2 linked regions of the Homo sapiens genome follow. The protein of the gene in region 2 purifies or fractionates together with the protein of the main gene of each other region. This does not show direct contact. Each region holds a gene or a part of one and is shown on either strand. Other genes may lie near its edges.

What was found. The genes of interacting proteins can lie anywhere in the genome.
Region 1: the proteins of TPM1 (region 2) and CNTLN purify together in Homo sapiens (affinity purification with mass spectrometry; 3 studies listed by BioGRID and IntAct, with this or other methods). This does not show direct contact.

What each region holds. Positions count from the first base shown.
Region 1 is NC_000009.12:17,393,540-17,397,039, reverse strand, and holds part of CNTLN (centlein), read right to left. Parts: intron 2,507-3,500; coding exon 1,971-2,506; intron 1-1,970. UniProt on the Homo sapiens protein: Required for centrosome cohesion and recruitment of CEP68 to centrosomes.
Region 2 is NC_000015.10:63,045,747-63,049,246, reverse strand, and holds part of TPM1 (tropomyosin alpha-1 chain), read right to left. Parts: intron 3,214-3,500; exon of another isoform or gene 672-3,213; coding exon of another isoform or gene 540-671; intron 407-539; exon of another isoform or gene 1-406. UniProt on the Homo sapiens protein: Binds to actin filaments in muscle and non-muscle cells. Plays a central role, in association with the troponin complex, in the calcium dependent regulation of vertebrate striated muscle contraction.

The DNA.
Region 1 (3,500 bases), on a different chromosome or scaffold from region 2:
GTAGCTAGCACTAGAATTTCCTTGAAGACAGAGGAATAATGAGATATAAAGATAACGCTTAGTGGGTGGGAAGTAAGTTTTTACCTCTAATTGCTATTGAGAGAAGGAAAGAAGAACCTCGGTAACACCGAAATGGGAATGCAGATTTGGTCCTTTGGCCTTTCCTTCATGAATATGTTTTTTGAGTTTCTTTAACTGCCTGAGGACAAGGGGCTTGAGTAGATGATGTTTAAAAACAGTGTTTCTCAAACTTGTCTGCACATTGGATTCAACAGGGAAACTTGAAAAAATACTTAGGCCTGTATCCCACTCCAAAGGTTATAATTTAATTTGTCTGGGGTGTGACCTAACCTTTGGAATGTTTATAAAACCTCCAGGTGCTTCTAATATGCAAACAAGTTTGGGGACCACATTTTAAGGTAATTTTCAGTTCTATGTCTGTGATTAGGAAAAGTATCCGGAGGCATCCCAAATCTAAAACAGAATCACTATTAGGGATTTAAAAACAAAACAAAATAAAAAACTAGGGAAAATCAAGGACATATGTCATTATAAAACAAGGCAGAATTTTTAAAATTATGGCAAATTGGGCAATTTGTTAGCAATTATGGCAACACTGAACTTCCCTACTGTCTAGATGTAAAAAAGAGGTGTTCTATCATTCGTCTTTGTGGTTTTGTTACAAGAAAGGGTCCTGATCCAGACCCCAAGAGAGGGTTCTTGGATCTTGCACAAGAAGGAATTCAGGGCGAGTCCACAGTGCAAAGTGAAAGCAGGTTTTTTAAGAAAGTAAAGGAATAAAAGAATGGCTATTCCATAGACAGAGTAGCCCTGAGGGGTGCTGGTTGCCCATTTTTATGGTTATTTCTTGACGATATGCTAAACTAGGGGTGTATTATTCATGCCTCCCCTTTTTAGACCACATAGGGTAACTTGCTGATGTTGCCATGGTATTTGTAAACTGTCATGGCGCTGGTGCGAGTGTAGCCGTGAAGACAACCAGAGATCACTCTTGTGGCCACCTTGGTTTTGGTGGGTTTTGGCTGGCTCCTCTACCGTAACCTGTTTTATCAGCAAGGTCTTTATGACCTTTGTTTTGTACTGACCTCCTATCTCATCCTGTGACTTAGAATGCCTTAACCATCTGGAAATGCAGCCCAGCAGGTTTCAGCCTCATTTTACCCAGCTCCTATTTAAGATGGAGTTGCTCTGGTTCACAGGCCTCTGACAGTTTTACTGATGTGTTTCAAGTGCATATATGAATGTATAGCCAGGGGTAAGAGAAAGAAGCATTATAGATTTTTAGTATCCTCCTGTTGCTGTTCACTAGGGGTACATATCTTAAGACTAGGAATCTTTAGAGCTATAACTTTAAAGAACTAATTTTTAACCACCATTCAATTAAAGTTAATACAATGACTTTGCATAATACATACATAAAATAATTAGTGAAGATGGTTCTTAATTTAAAGGATGTTAAACAGCTTGTAGACATCTGGTAACAAGCTGAAATGGGTCATTCAAAATTTATCTAACTAAATTAAGGGGGAAAATTGTTTCTCCTCCCAGGTTGGTATGTCACAAGATAACTAAACCGACTTAGTAGGCTTGCCTGGGAATCCTTAGCTGTCAGTGGTGAATATGCAAAGGGCCAGCAGATTAAATCAACCTGCCAAACTGTCAATTTCAAGCCTCATGACTGCATGAAAATAGCATCACTGAAAGAAATCAAGCATTGCCTTCTTTTGGGTTTCCTGGCACCTATTCAAGTACTCATGCAGTTGTGGCTAATTTTGCATGCAAATTTCAGTCAATAAGCTCAGAACAAGACCTCCCAAGATATTTCAAAGGATCTGACAGTATTTTTTCTGAATACCAAATCGACAGTAGTTGAAATTCAATCTCCATTTGCTAGTGCTTTACATATGCGCAGTGTCCCCACCACAGAGCTAAGTTAATGAGAGCCTTACCTGCTTTCACTCACATCCTCCCAGCCGTCCTTGCTGAGGTTCTCAAACACATTGCTCATAACCTTGATGGAATGATTGAGAACAGTGTGGTGACGACCCACAGAGCAATTTTTCTTCGCAGCTTTAAATTTAACCTTGGTCATAGTTGTCTTACAATCATATCGTCCAGATCTCACTTTCATGGTGGCCATCTCGGATTTAGCTCTGTCTGCTGACTGGTGTGATTTCTCCATTGGGTTGATCAGCTCTTCATTTTCATTTCTCAATGCATTAGCTTCTGCCACTTGTCTCCTCAGGGAAGTGACTTCTGTCTCCAGCTCACTGATTTTTACTTGAAGTTCAGTATTTTCTTTTTCTACATCTTTACTCCCCTTTATTATCTGTTCTAGCTCTTTTTCTCTGGTCTCTGTATCTTCTTGTTGCTGTTTTAAGAGGGATTTCAGAAAATCATTTTCTTTCATTAATTTTTTATTCCCTTCTTTTAATTTTCTCGACCTTTTCTCAAAAGATTTCAGCCGATTTTCCAACTCAGTGACCTAAAGGAAAGAGTTTATTCTTTTAAGAATCCAAAAACCATAATCTACTATACTTTATTACCATTTCTAACTTATGAAATAAAAATCACATTTAGCACAAGGACAAAATAAATATAAAGTACTTAATTTCTAGATAATTCTAAGGCAGTGCAGATGAATACATTCAAAAATGCAATAATGTATCTGTTGAATAAAGGACAGATGGTAAAAGAAGGTAAAATTCTACACAGTGACAGAACTAAGTATGCTAATAAACTGCAGTGTCTTCTGAGATCATAAGTGCCTTGGCTATATATTCTATTCATTGTGGAAAAAAATATTTCAGAGAAAAATAATATACACAAATGTCTAAAAGTAGATAAACTGTAATAATAAATAACTTTTTTTCAATATTCGACAATCATATGAAAAAGGAATGACAATATAAAGTAATCTACTGAGGCTGCTTTTTTTCTAAATTAGAAAAATGTAATTTTAGTAGTCATGTGGTCCTCAGTTTATGTGATAAGGGAACAGTTTACTAAATAATAAAGTCTAACAATTTTAAATTATAATGATTTCAAGGTTGCACATAAATTAAAATTTTCCCATTTATTTCAATAAACAATGCTTGTGTTATAGGACATAGCAATGGCAACACACATTTGTTAATCTTAAGGAATTTCAAAATTATTTGAAAAGACCAACACCTGCATACATAAACCTAATAAAGGATATAATCTAAGTATCATAAGTCTGGGCAATTAATTCTAGTTCATAATTTCAAACATTTCATGGAGGAGTTGACTTACATTTAGATCTTATTAATAATAAGTGTTATTGTTTGTAAAGTACATTTTACTATTTACAAAATAGTTTCAAAAACATGATCAACATGATCTCTTCTGACCATCTCAAAACGTGAGGTATGTAGAACCAACAATTATCTTTCCAGACAGGAAAGAGAGGTTCTGAAAACTTAAATTTCACAGAGGTAAACTTTTCTGGGATTCAA
Region 2 (3,500 bases):
CAATGTCTGTCTACCGCCTCGGAGACACAGGCCGCCGGGAAACCACAGGGTCGACGGGAACGGCGGAGTGTAGCATCCCCGGGCCCCAAGTCCACAGTGCCTCTCCCACTTGACCTGTCGGCGCCCCTTCTCAAAGTACGGATCTCCAAGAGGAAGGACCTCCTCCCTCTCCACTCTCAGAGTAAAGCAAGCCAGCAGCGCAAAGTGCACCTCCCGGGGACGCACAGACACGACTGAAAGCCACCACCCCAGAAACAGACCCTTCCTGGGAAAATGCTCCTTCCAGAACCTTCTCAACACCACCCGTTTCCCCTGGGAGCGTTTACTTTGGATCAGCGAGATGGAAAACAAAGGCTCAGGAGAACAGGCCGGGCCCCTCCCCAGAGCCCGCCGCCAGCTGGCCCAGGTGCGCCAGGTGCGCCCTGGAGGCGTGGGGACGAGGGACCGGGGCCTGCGGGGGGGGAAGCAGGAGGGCCCTGCGGGGCTGCCCCGGGAGGATGCGCCTCTGGGGGCTGCGGGGTGATGGGTGTATCCCTTACGGTCTCCCTCAGCTTCCTCTCGTGGTCCAGCTCGCGCTGCAGGGTGCCCGCGCGCTCCTCAGCGGCGTCCGCCTGCTCCTGCAGGCTCCGGATCTTCCTGCGCACCGCCTCCAGCGAGCTACTCCCCGCCATCGCGCCGGACGGTAGGCGGGCGGGAGGGCTGCAGTGGGAGAGGCCGGCTGCTGCCCTGCGGACCCGGCTGCCGCGGCTGTCCTGGCTGCCCAGCGCCGGTCCGCCCCGCCCAGGCCTCTCTGTGCGATGGCGGCGCCCCCTGCGGCCAGGAGCAGTCCGGAAGTCGCAGCCTCCAGGGCTGCGCAGACAAACCGCAGGCGGGCGCGCGCGGCTGGGAGGGGCGCGCGCCGTGGATCCCGGGACTGGCTGGGGGCACTGCGCATGCTCGCGGCGGCGGGGAGAAAGGCGCTCCCGGCGCGCTGCGGGGGTACCTGGTGAGCTGGGCGCTCCGGGAGGCCACTGCACTAGGGCTCTGGCTTCCACTTCTAGGGCCCCTCCGCGGCGCGGTGGTGACCCGGGGTAACGGAGCTGGCTGCTAAGGGCAATAGCGACTCCTGCTGGCCGCGGGAGCGCTCCGCTCCCGAGTCCAGATTCCCATGCCCGGGAGCCAGAGAAGCTGAGCGGCGGGTCTGGAGCCGGAATATGCCCTAAAGGGCCTGATCCCAACCGCAAGATTATAACCCAAGCACTACCCCCATTCCCCAAAACTTCACGAAGTGAAAACCACCCGCGTGTAGAGCACAGTGGTTAGACCTCCTGTTCTAAATGCAGTTTTCCTAGGTTGACTCTGGCTCCTAGTTTCCTGCTGCGTGACTTCGGACACATTACCTGTCTTCTCTGGGCGTCATCTGTAAAAGTGGGAATAATAATAGTACTTTCCCCATGGGGCTGCTATGAGAATTATGAAGGACTGTAAAGCGCTTAGCACAATACCTTGTACATAGTTAAAAACTCAAATGATAGCTACGATTAAGAAATACACAAGCATTGTTTTAAGAGTCAGGCTGAGGCCCATAATCAGCTGTGTAATCTCAGGCCAGCCTCCCTGGGGCTCACTTTCCATGAAAACAGTCATCCAAATGGTCTCTTCTCTTTACAGCCTTCTTTGGTGTCAGACCAGCCTCTGAGATCTCCTGGAATCCAGTCAGTCCTGGGCTGGACTGGGATGCCTTTAAAAGGCACCCCAAGGAAAGCCACAGAACCCTATGAGAGAGCCTCTGGCTACAGGTGGAGAAAACCACCGCAGATACAGTCTCCACCGATTTCCCCCTTGAGCTGTATTCTTAAATGCCTTCTAAGTCTCAGGGCTTTTTCTCCTCAGGTTTGTCACAGAAAGCTCTTAAAGCCAGCTCCCTTATGTGTGGGAATAATAAAGAAAACATGCTTGACAACCCTCTCCTCCTCCAAGCCCTAACAAGGAACTTTTGCTTTCCTGCCTCATTTTCTGTGGAGTTCCTCACAGCCTCTGCTGAGACTCTCACAAATCCCAGCTTGGGTCCTTGCATCCTGTAGGTGGGAGCTTCTCGCTTTGTTTCCCCGCGGTTCATCTGGTCAGGTGGGGAGGTTACAGCTGGTCCCCTAAGTGCAGAGACTGTGGGCCTCCAACATTGAGAATGGGGGAACCGGGTGTCTGGCAACCTCCAGGAGCAGCCAGGAAACTGCTGGACACTGGCAAGTGCCATAAGCAGCCAACTAGTGACTTAATGTCCTGGGAAGGTCAGTTTCAGGTGAGTTCATTTTCATGCCGATGTCATTATACAAGAGTTTAGGAGAGTTTTCTCATCCTTGTCTGTAGGTTGGAATCACTTGGGTATTTTTTAAATGCTGCCGCCTGGGTTGCATCCCCAGGGATTCTGATTTAACTGGCTTTGGGTGCATCCTAACTTTGGGTTTTAAAAGCTCCCTAAGTGATTATGTTTAGAGAAGGTTGAGAATCCCTAAGTTAAGAAGTAAAGACCTACAAAGGGATAAAGACTCATATGCTATAAATATCAGATATATCACAGTTACTGGGGAAGAGATTGGGGGCCAGAAAAAAATGGAGTCTTCGATCCCCTTCAGCCTCACTTTTGACTTAGGTGGAAAGACAACACAAAATTCGAAACAAGACCATCAGGGATACTACTCCTGAATGACAATCTTCTAAGCTAGGTAGAGCCCACTTCCAGAATAGGATTTGTAAAGTAGTAGAAAAATGTTTTTAGTAATAATAGTAGAAAAATGTAAAAGTGTTTTACACTGGTGAATAATGACAATGAAATGTCCTAATCCCAAAGGTAATACGATTCCACCTCAGGAAGCTGACTTCTCCCTTACCGGACTTCTCCCTTTTTCTAGTGACATCTGTCTCTTCCTCCTCAAGTTTTGACTATTTTTTAGTAAATAAAAAACGAATACTCTCAATATGGTCATGCACTGCATAATGATGTTTTGGTCAATGAGGGGCTGCATATATGAGAGTAGCCTCATAAGATTACAATAGAACTAAAAAATTCCTATCGCCTGGTGATTTGTGTTACAATTGTTGACAGTATTCAGTACAGTAACACACTGTACAAGTTTGTAGCCTAGGTGTTTAGTAGGCTATACCCTCTAGGTTTGTGTAAGTACCATACACTCTATGGTGTTTGCACAATGAATAAATCACCTAACGACACATGTCTCAGACCTTATCCCCCTTCATTAATCAACAAATGACTGTATAGCATTTCTTCACTAACTTCTTCAATATTCCTACGGGCTCCAAACTCCAGACAACCTAAAGTGTCCTAAAAGGGAATGTGATCAATACACTATCAAAAAAGCCATATATGCCAGATTTAGGGGCAGTTTCCCGGTGGGAAAAATAACCAAAACAAGATTCAAGAAGCTCCCTCCCCTGCTGCTTCCCACACCAGCTGACTTTAAATAACTTCTTTCCCATTTCTGCCCCACCCCATTCCAGCGCTC